2 separate regions of the Homo sapiens genome follow, and region 1 is linked to region 2. The links come from fine-mapping of genetic effects on plasma protein levels. A gene starts in region 2. The other region holds a variant in brackets. All regions are shown on one strand. Distances are from middle to middle.

Region 1 (5,375 bases), 21 kb before region 2:
AAGCACCACTGAATTCATAGTACCTTTCTGTAACTTAGCATTTCATTTTTTTCTTTTTTTTGAAACAGTTTTTTGTTCTATCACCCAGGCTGGAGTGCAGTGGCATGATCTCGGCTCACTGCAACCTCCATCTCCCAGGTTCAAGCAATTCTCCTGCCTCAGCCTCCTGAGTAGCTGGGATTACAGGTGCCTGCCACCGTATCCGGCTAATTTTTGTATTTTTAGTAGAGACAGGGTTTCACCATGTTGGCCAGGCTGGTCTCAAACTCCTGACCTCAGGTGAGCCGCCCGCCTCAGCCTCCCAGAGTGCTGGGTTTATAGGCATAAGCCACTGTGCCTGGTCTTGTAACTTAATATATATTTTTTCAATCTTGGAAGTTTTTTTTTTTTTTTTTTTGCATTAAAAAGTTTGAGAGGGAGCGAAAGAGAGACAAAGCCCCATTCACCCATTAATCAAAAAAGGGAGAATCTCCATTCATTCTCAAAAGGACTGAAAACCACTGATTCAGCCCCATCCTCTCCTCCATAGAGGAGGAAATTGAGGGTCAGAGTGTGAGGAGATCAGCTCCAGGTCAGACAAATAGCCAGTCAGAGGCCAAGCCCAGGCACAGACCTAAGTCCTGTCTTTCTTCCCTCTGCAACCAAAATGACTCACTCCTGGCCTCCCCCTTTCTCCCCTCAGGTGCAGGAGGGCTATCGGCCTGTCCTCCTGGACTTTCCTCCCCCAGGGACATTCAGGGAAAGGCGGGGTGGCTGCCACTTACCCTCAGAGCAGGCAGGGGTGCTGCAGAACTCTGAGCTGTACTTCCCCGCCTTAAAGACGTAGCACCAGGGCTTTGAGTCTCGATCTGGGTTTCTGAAAAATCAGCCAAGGGAAGGGCCAGGGTAGGTCAAAGGTGAAGCCTCTCCTTTAGGACCCAAGGACTTTGGTATCCTTTTCTGGAGGAATGGGGGGTGCTTTTTTTTTTGACAGAGTCTCGCTGTTTATCCCAGGCTGGAGTGCAGCGGCGCATCTCCTCTCACTGCAACCTCCGTTTCCTGGATTTGGGCAATTCTTCAGCCTCAGCTTCCCGAGTAGCTGGGATTACAGGTGCCTGCCACCATGCCTGGCTAATTTTTGTATTTTTAGTAGAGACAGGGTTTCACCATGTTGGCCAGGCTGGTCTTGAACTCCTGACCTCAGGTGATCCACCTGCCTTGGCTTCCCAAAGTGCTGGGATTACAGGCGTGAGCCACCACGCCCAGCCGGGAGTGCGTTTTTGGTTGTACACTGGTAGTTCTATCATGTTAGGCAGGAGTATGATTTTGTTCCTGTGTTTACTTGGAGGTGAAGGATGGTTTAAGGAGATGCACATGGGTGCCAAATTGACAAGGTGTGGACTGGAATAGTCTTATATGTCAACTTGGCCAGGCTGTGGCACCCAGTCAGTTAACCAAACATTCATCTAGGAGTTGTGAAAGTGTTTTATAGATGTGGTTAATATCTACAGCCAGTTGACTTTAGAAAAGGAAATTGTCCTAGATAATGTAGTTGGGCCTCGTCCAATCACTTAAAGGCCTTAAGAGCAAATATGAGGTTTCCTGAATAAGAAATTCTGCCTTAAGAGAGCAGCCTCAGCTTCTGCCTGCACTTCCAGCCTGGCTTACCAAGATGTTTCGGACTTGCCAGCCCCCACGATCCTGTCAGCCAGTTCCTTAACATAAATGTCTATCTATCTAGTGTGAAAGGAAAATAAATCTCAGGACCCCAACGTCATGAGCCAAGGGAAATGTCAAGCCGGGAACTACGTCAGGCAAACCTGCCTCTCATTTATTCCTCAATAAGATAGCTGCAAAGTTTTTTTTTTTTTTTTTTAATTCTCTACAAGGACATTCCTTGCAGGCCTAAAGATCTTTACCCTAAAACAGTTCTGTTGACTTTCACCTTGGCATTGTAAATGGATAGCTTATCTTCCCAGGTGCAGGACAGAAAATCATCCCTCTGCTCATCTGAGACAAATGCGTATCTGATTGCTTCCTCTGCCCTATTTTTTATGTAAAAATGCAGATGAACTGAGCCAGACTCAATTGTGTGTTCAGTGAAAAGCTGATCAAGGACTCAGAATACAGCCTTTTGTCTCTTATCTACCTATGGCCTGGAAGCCCTTGCTTCGAGTTATCCCAACTTTCCCGACCAAACCGATGTACATCTCACACATGTTGATTGATGTCTCATGACTCCCTAAAACGTCTAAAGGCAAGCTGTGCCCTGACAACCTTGGGCACATGTCCTCAGGACCTCCTGAGGCTGTGTCACGGGGGTGTCCTTAACCTTGGCAAAATCAACTTTCTAAATCGATTGAGACCTGTCTCAGATACTTTGGGTTCACACACATTCTCTCTCTCTCTCTATTTCTCTCTCCTCTTTCTCTATCTCTATCTCTCTATCATCTATCAATCTGTCTATCATCTATCTATCTATCATCTATCATCTTACATCTACTATCACCTATGTATCTATCATCTATCAATCTTCTATCATCTATCAATCTATCTATCACCTATCATCTATCATCTATCATCTATTTATCATTATCATCTATGTATCATCTATTTAATCATCTATCAATCATCTATCATCTGTCAATCTGTCTATCATCTATGTGTCTATCATCTATGTATCTATCATCTATCTTTCTAATCATCTGTCTATCATCTACCACCTATCATCTATCATCTATCCATCTATCATCTATCTACCATCTATCATCTATGTATCTATCATCTATTTATCTATCAATCATCTATCAATCTATCATCTATCTATCACCTATCATCTGTCTATCTGTCATCCATCTACCGTCTATTTATCATCTATCTATCATGTATGTATCATCTATTTATCTAATCTATCACCTATCATCTATCATCTATCAATCTATCATCTATCACCTATCATCTATTATCTGTCTATCATCTATCCATCTATCCATCCTGTATTGGTTATGTTTCTTGGGAGAACCCTGACGGATCTGACAGAATCTTTCCCCAGCTGTAGCAGCTTCTCACAGGGGGAATCCCTCCTTGGGGATGTGCCCTCACCTGCAGTAGTTGTGGTTCCCCAGGCCCAGCCTGATGGCGTCTGGCCTCC[G/A]CCCGCTGTAGGGCTTCTGGGCCAACGCGCTGCTGTTCCAGTTGGTGCACTCGGCGCCACTCTCCGCTGTGCTCCACGTGCCCCTGTAGCTGATGCCCTGGTCCTCGTAGCACGTGGCCCTGGTATCTGACAGAGAGCAGGGCATGGATGCCTCACATGGGAGTCCCCTTTCATTCAGCCCTCAGGAGGCTCCCCTCTCTGCCCCGTCCTCCCCCAGGCCTGATGCAGGCTGGCTCGGAAGCCACAGGCTGGGTGGCAAGGGTGCCAGCCTGGATTCAGGGTCACACCTAGGCTCTGCTTGCTGTGTGGCACTGTGCTTCCTGACCCATGGCAGAAGCGCCTTCCCTGTCCCTGGCCCCCACCCCTGGCCCTGCCATCGCACCCTGCCTTTCCTTCCGGGGGCGGGGGAGACTGGAGAGGTGGGATTTCAGCTCGTTTCACGTGCTCTCACCTACTCACCTATTTCACAGCACTTCCCAGCAAATCCTTCGGGGCACTGGCACACGAAATCTGAGAAGTACAGGGCCTGCTGGCAGGTGCCCCCGTTGAAACACCTTGGCTCGCTGCAACCTGTCAAGTATAAAAAAGGAAGCCCCTAATGACAGCCTCCTTCTGTGTGCTCAGGCCATGGTTCCAGGAGCCCTGTCTACCACAATCCACACACACTCAAGTCCTGCAGCGTGGAACACGCGTATACCAGTTCTGCATCCTACAAATACTGTTTTCATCCTGCCTTTGGTTGAAAAAAATCCATACATAAGTGGACCCTGCAGGTCAGACAAGTGTTGTTCAAGGGTCCCCTGTATTTTCAAAGCAGCTCCAAGGATGATGTGAGTTAAAATATTAAGAATGTGCTCTATGTGCCAGGCGCTGTTGTACAGTCTACAAAAATTAGCTAATTTAATCCTCACAGCAAACCATGAAGTGTGTACTGTTATTCCCACCTCTTTATAGATGAGGAAACTGAGGCAAGCGGGCATTTGCCCAAGGTCACTTGGTCTTGCTCCCTTTTCTGCTTGTACCTTCACCTCCGCCTAAGGCCGAACAGGCCTGGAGGCTCCTTTTGAAGATTTGAACTTTCCGGGGACCATGAAAGACAGGGTTCATGACTGGACCCCTGAACTCGAAGTCTCAGTTTGAAGTCGATTTGTACTGGGCTTTTCTGTGTTTTTGTTTTTGTTTGTGTTGTTTTGTTTTGTTTTAGAGGTGAGGGCTTGCCCTGTCACTGAGGTTGAAATGCAGTGGCACAATCGTAGATTACTGCAGCCTCCAACTCCTGGGCTCAAGTGATCCTTCTGCCTCAACCTCCCAAGTAGTTGGGACTACATACCAGGTCTGGCTAATTTTTTTATTTTTTGTAGAGACAGGGGACTTGCTATGTTTGCCCAGATTGGTCTTGAACTCCCGGGCTCCAGCGACCCTCCCACCTTGGCCTCCTAAAGTGCTGGGATCACAGGCATGCACCACCTCCCAGCCTCAGTACATACTTTTGACAGGCACTGAGTGGCACTGTGCCCTGCCACTGTTGCACCAGCAATATTCCACCCGGTTGCTTCTGAGCACAGGGCGCAGCCATGACTGATGTTGCTGGTATATCATCTGCGTTTTTTCATCTCTGCAGATCACTATGAGAAAAGACAGGCCAGCCTCATCAGAGTATGACTCAAAATGAAATGCCTCACTACCCTTGCACCTACTGAGAAAACTCCCTCACTTGCTTTCTATAGACTCCATTGCATACTCCCTTATTGAAGAGACACAACTGGAAGACAACAAGATAATGAATACTGGCCAAACACGGTGACTGATGCTGGTAATCCCAGCACTTTGGGTGGCCGAGGTGGGTGAATCACTTGAGCTCAGGAGTTCGAGACCAGCCTGGCCAACATGGTGAAACCCTATCTCTACTAAAAATACAAAAATGAGCCAGGCATGGTGGCAGGTGCCTGTAATCCCAGCTACTCAGGAGGCTGAGGCAGGAGTATTGCTTGAACCCAGGAAGTGGGGGTTGCAGTGAGCCGAGATTGTACCACTGCACTCCAGCCTGGGCGACAGAGCAAGACTCCATCTCAAAATAAAATAAAATAAATTTGCATTTCTTTTCTGAGTGCCATTGAGTATCTTCTCATATGATTTATTTATTTATTATTTATTTATTATTATTATTTTTGAAACAAAGTCTCACTCTGTCGCCCAGGCTGGAGTGAAGTGGCACAATCTCGGCTCACTGCAACCTCCACCTCCT
Region 2 (5,375 bases):
ATCACTTGAACCTGGGAGGTGGAGGTTGCAGTAGCCGGGATCATGCCATTGCACTCTAGCCTGGGCAAAAAGAGTGAAACTCCGTCTCAAAAAAAAAAGTAGATTCACTGAGCCAACTAAGGCATAAGTGACTCTTCCTCTGCCCCCCTCTCATATGTAAATTGTGTATTCAGTGAAAGGCTGACAAAGACTCAGAAGAATGAAGCCTTCTCTTATCTACCTATGACCTGGAAGCCCCTACTTCGAGTTGTCCTGCCTTTCCAGACCGAACCGGTGCACATCTTACATACATTGATTAATGTCTCATGTCTCCCTGAAATGTATGAAACCAAGCCATACCTTGGCCACCTTGGACATATGTCCTCAGGATCTCCAGAGGCCGTGTCACATGTGTGTTCTTAACATTGGCAAAATAAACTTTCTAAATTGACAGACCTGTCTCAGATACTTTTGGGTTCACAAAGGAGTGCCTGACTGTTTTTTGGAATCCTTTGAAATCTACTGGCCGCTGGCTCTGCTCAGCAACGTCAGGCCCTGGGGGAAATCAAAGCCTCAGTGAACTCAAAAACCAACAAAGGGGAACTGCTATTCCCAGCTATTCCCTGGCTGCCTGGACTGTCCCAGGCCTGTGATGAAGCAGGGGGAGCCGCAGACACTGGGAGAATCCGACGCGAGTCATTGTGAAATAAACCAAGCTGGTCTTGGGGAGTCGGGCAGAGAAGGAGCATTTTGGAGACAAGGGCAGCTTTCATTTGCTCCTGAGATTTTGATCTGGGGCTTTATCATTTGATCCAGAGCTTGGAGGCTTGCATCTTTGAGAACATTTTAGGTGGAATAAATGGGTGGGCAGGATGGAGCTATTCATATCTCAATACTCACAGTGTCCCTGCCAGTGCTGGAGTCCGACTCTGCCTGCACAGGAAGCACGCACCCAGCAGCTCATGCTGACCGTCATGGATTGAGTCTAGATCCCAGAATGAGCGTTCTTGCCACAGCAAGTACTGCTAGGAAGTCACCTTTGAGGGGACTCCACCTGACAATGGTATTTGCAAGACCCCTTCCCGGGACTGCAATGCACACGCATACACACACACACGACATTTTTTCTGTCATCAAGCAGCTACAGGAGACCACCATATTATTCCCAATTGGCCACCAAACACATCCTTGTTACCACACTTCTTTGAGCTTGAGTTGTCATTAGTTACCTGGGACCTCGGCGTGTTTTCGTCTTCCCTCCCTCCCTTCCTCTCTCCCTCCCTGTGAGGTTAAGAAAATAAAGATAATAACAGTGAAAATCTGGAGAACCCCACATGCTTCCTGCAGAGTGCTTTAGGAATAAAAGACATTAATGTCAGTTTTTTCCCCTGTAATTAAAATGTCCTTTAAGGAGGACTGCACACTTGACTGATGCACCCTGGGCAAAAAGCCAGAGGGCCAAACTGACCTGTGGAGACTTGTAGGGGTGGCACCTAGGGAGATCAGAGGCATTTCTCTATCCCACGGGGTAATGTGGGGTGTGAAAGCCACCTGCTTCTCTCTCCCAGCACCTAGCAAATAGTGCTCTGGAAGTAAGTCCCCCTCTGCCCCATCCACAGCCTCAGTTCCTTTCTGGGGGTTCATCGGGGGAGGGAGGAAACTAGGGGACCCAGCGGGCCCTCCCAGCTGTCACAGGCACGTGTCCCAAGGCAGCCGATTTTGCTTTTATTGCTTGCTCGTCTTGAGGTACTCCCATAGGCTATTTGGGGCTTTTCTGTATCGTTCTTTTCACTTTCCCCTTTACTCTGTCAGCAGAGGCTTCTCCAATGAATGCAACCTCCCTAGTCTCCCTTTCCCCGACTGCCTCTCCCCTCCAAAACACTCCAGCCTATCCCAATCACATGCAAATGCAAACAGACATCTCCCCTCTGGAGTGGATTCTAGCGGATCCTCTAGTTGCCTGAATTACAAAGTTGGTCCCTTGGTTAAAGCATTCCTTCACTGGCTCAGCTTGCTGGAAAGACTTTTAAGAGAAAGAAGAGGAGACAGACCCCAAGGTACAGAAACCCGACCTACCACGGCTTGCTCCTTCCCTTTCCTCGCAGAGGTTTTCTCTCCAGCCCTGGACTCCTGTAGGATCTCAGCTCTGAGCTCCCCACAGCTCCGGCCTCCTTTAAGTTTCCAGGCAGGGGGTGGGGTCGGTGGCCCCGGCTGGGCGGGTTTCTGTGTGGCGGGAGGATGCTCAGTGGACAGGGCCATGAGGGAGCTGAGGCAGGCCTGTTTTTATAAAGCAGGGGGAGGAAGTTCACGGTGGAAGCAGCACAGCCCATCCTGGCTTCGGGCCAGGCTGATTATTCACAGCCGTGATGTCATTGAATCGCAGGAATTTGGAAGTGGGATGGGACCTTAAGAATCATCTTCCTTTAGAGTCCTAGTGTCCCAGGCTTAAAAGGGACTTTCAGGACCCTGTGATGACAAGAAGTGTTTATAATTCTAAAGGCAGCAGGTTGGGGCTGGGAGTGGGGTGTCTTCTGGAATCTGTGGCTGTAGCTCTGGCCTCTCAGGACATGAGAGGTTAAAAGGACTGGAGGATGCACAAGGATTGGAACACTTTGTGTGGTGGCGGGAGCTCAGGGGGGTAGCCACTGAGAAGGCAGGACCAGCCTTGGGCTCACCTGCGGTAGGAGGTGCCCCCATGGGGGTTTGCTCCGGTAGGCATCTTTGGCCCTGTTCTGTAATTTTAGGGAGAATCTTTCTCTTCTTTGTAAAGTGCAGGGCTGCAGTAGGTGGCCTCCGGGGACTTTCCGGCTCCAGCATCCCCTTGAGTGGGCCCAGGGAATATACACAGGGCCTTGGGGCCAACATGCCTGAAATTCGATCAAAGCCATCAGCCCTTAAGCCCACCGAAGCCTTTCAGTATTTGCTTGTAAAATGCCCCTGGAAATAGACAAGCCATTTCCCTTGCTGACACCTTTTCAGATGACTGAGAAATAAAAGCCCTGTCGTGTAGGGGAAAGTCTTAGGTTTAAATCCGGCTGTGCCAGTAACTGGGATATGACCTCAATCAAGATTTTCAACTATGCTGAGCTCTGGCTTTTGCATCTGCAGGTCACGTGAGGATCAGAGAGAAGCCACGCATGTCAGGGCCCTGGCACATCACAGGGCTCAGCAGGAGCATCTATCATCATTGGTTCATGTCTGGCTGAGACCAGACCTTGTAAAAATGAGAGAGAGGTGAAAGAAAGAACGCAGGGAGGGAAGAGAAGTTTGGCAGAGGAAATTGTGGGATGACCGACTATTCAGGAGAGGCCAGATTTCATACATTCTGATCCTAAATATACTCATATTTGTCAAACCATGAGTGCTGAGTTTGAAGTTGAAAGGCACCTAACTGCTTTTCACATTGCTTTCAAACTGTTTTTCACATTTTTATGAAGCTGCAGCCCTGCTGATGGTCATTGTAGAAAAGGGGCACTGGGGTGGGTTGCCTGCTGAGCACGGGAGGTAGACCTCCCATGAGCAGCAGCAGCTGTGGGCCTGTCTGGTGGGCATGGGGCTGCTTTCCTGCAATGTGGTCTAAGATGGTGAGGATGGAGGCTTTTTTGGGGGGTGGGGCATTGCCGTTCAGCAGGGAGTGCTGGTCATGAGGACTCTCATTTGAACTCTTGAGAGGATGGTTTTCCACTGAATGGTTGCACTTAAATCCTGGATCCTGAACCTCTATGGAAAACAATATGGAGATTTCCCAAACTAAAAATAGAACATCCATTTGACCCGGCAATCCCACTACTGAGTATCTATTCAAAGAAAAAGAAATCATTACATCAAAAAGACACCTGCACTCACACGTTTATCACACACAATTCACAACAGCACAATTCACAATAGCAAAGGCACAGAATTAACCTAAGTGTCCATCAATGGAGGACTGGATAAAGAAAATGCACATATACACCGAGGAATACGACAAAGCCGTAAAAAACAATGAAGTCTGTCTTTTGGAGCAACATGGATGAAACTGGAGACCATTATCCTAACTGAAATAACTCAGAAACAGAAAGTGAACAACCACATGCACTCACTTATAAATAGGGGCTAAACAACGGGAGACTGAGAGGAGAGGGTTTGCAGATCATTAGCAGGGGCCCTGAGCTTTGCTGAAATATACCCGAATGATTAAGACCCAGCAATATCCTGCAGCCCTAGAAACTGGGGCCTCTGTGTTCCTTCTGAATTGAGATTGGTTTCCCTCGGACAGATTCTGGGGAAGCCTGAGAATGCAGAATTAGGCATGGGCAGGCTGATAAGGTGACAATGGGAGCCTTGATTTTAGTCAAGGGATCACTTCGAGGAAAAGAAAAGAACAGAAAAAAAGGAAAAAAATCTTGGTGACCTCACATCCTGTGAACATTTCATCAAAGCCCTTCATTTTCAAAAAAGAGAAATAAATCCAGGCCTAGATAACACGGAGACAAAGTGGGCACAGAGAAACTGGACGGGGAATTGCTGCAGGGCTTTTCCCAGCCAGCCTGGCTGTTTCTGCAGTGGGCGCCTCCCCCACAGAATGCATGAGTCATGGAGGTGGCGGGGGCAGAGAACAGGGGCTGCTCCAACCCTTCTCACTGGGGCAGGTGGCAGGATGGGTATTCGAACGAGAGCCATGCTGGGACTCTGCTCAGCTGGGTAAGAAATGATGTGATGTCTCTGGAAACTCAGAGAAAGGAAGAGTGGGCAAGAAACTTGTTTTTTTTTTTTTTATTTTCTTTTTTTTTTTTTTGAGACAGAGTCTTGCTCTGTCGCCCAGGCTAGAGTGCAGTGGTGTGATCTCGGCTCACTGCAACCTCCACCAGGTTCAAGCAATTCTCCTGCCTCAGCCTCCTGAGTAGCTGAGATTACAGGTGCCCGCCACCACGCCCAGCTAATTTTTTTGTATTTTTAGTAGAGACGGGGTTTCACCATGTTGGTCAGGCTGGTCTCAAACCCCCGACCTCGTGATCCACCTGCCTCAGCCTCCCAAAGTGCTGGGATTATAGGTGTGAGCCACCGCGCCCAGCCAAGAAACTTATGACAAGGATGTTTTGGACCAGAAGACGGACATTCTGTGTCTAAACTAAGATTTAATTTTGGTAGCCATCTGGCTTTGCAGGGGATGGGGTAAATGTCATGATGGATCTAAAATCGGTGTTATTGTCGCACGCCTTGTCTAGGTCTCCATCTAGACTGGGAATCCCCGGCCCTGGGGCCATGGGCTGGTATCTGTCCGTGGCCTGTTAGGAACCAGGCTGCGCAGCAGGAGGTGAGTGGCTGGAGAGCCAGTGAAGCTTCATCTGTGTTTACAGCCGCTCCCCATCACTCGCATTACTGCCTGAGCTGCACCTCCGGTTGGATCAGCAGTG

Direction of the effects. Positions count from the first base shown, and alleles are read on the strand shown. Strength reflects both the effect of a copy and how common the allele is.
As copies of G replace A in region 1, the plasma level of the protein whose gene starts at base 2,127 in region 2 goes up (moderate association).

The links. A credible set is the group of variants that fine-mapping cannot tell apart. PIP is the posterior inclusion probability: the model's chance that the variant is causal. Protein levels are from antibody-based Olink assays in UK Biobank. Linkage for the fine-mapping came from a reference panel and not from the study's own genotypes, which makes the PIPs less certain.
Region 1: its variant is the best candidate, but not a certain one, in a credible set for the plasma level of the PLAT protein (UK Biobank, PIP 0.60). The variant lies in the coding sequence of PLAT. If it changes the protein, the assay may bind it differently, which can mimic a change of level.

Annotation. Positions count from the first base shown.
Region 1 is chr8:42,184,317-42,189,691 of GRCh38, forward strand. It overlaps PLAT (plasminogen activator, tissue type), which reads right to left. Exons shown (of 14, transcript NM_000930.5): 4 at 4,618-4,755; 5 at 3,590-3,700; 6 at 3,082-3,256; 7 at 765-856. Among named protein-coding and RNA genes, the nearest start is that of PLAT, 21 kb to the right of the region's middle. RefSeq lists enhancers at 2,747-3,318, 3,319-3,889. The variant G/A (reference allele first, on the strand shown) is at 3,131.
Region 2 is chr8:42,205,439-42,210,813 of GRCh38, forward strand. PLAT (plasminogen activator, tissue type) reads right to left here and starts at 2,127. Exons shown (of 14, transcript NM_000930.5): 1 at 2,056-2,127. RefSeq lists enhancers at 2,628-3,146, 3,147-3,665.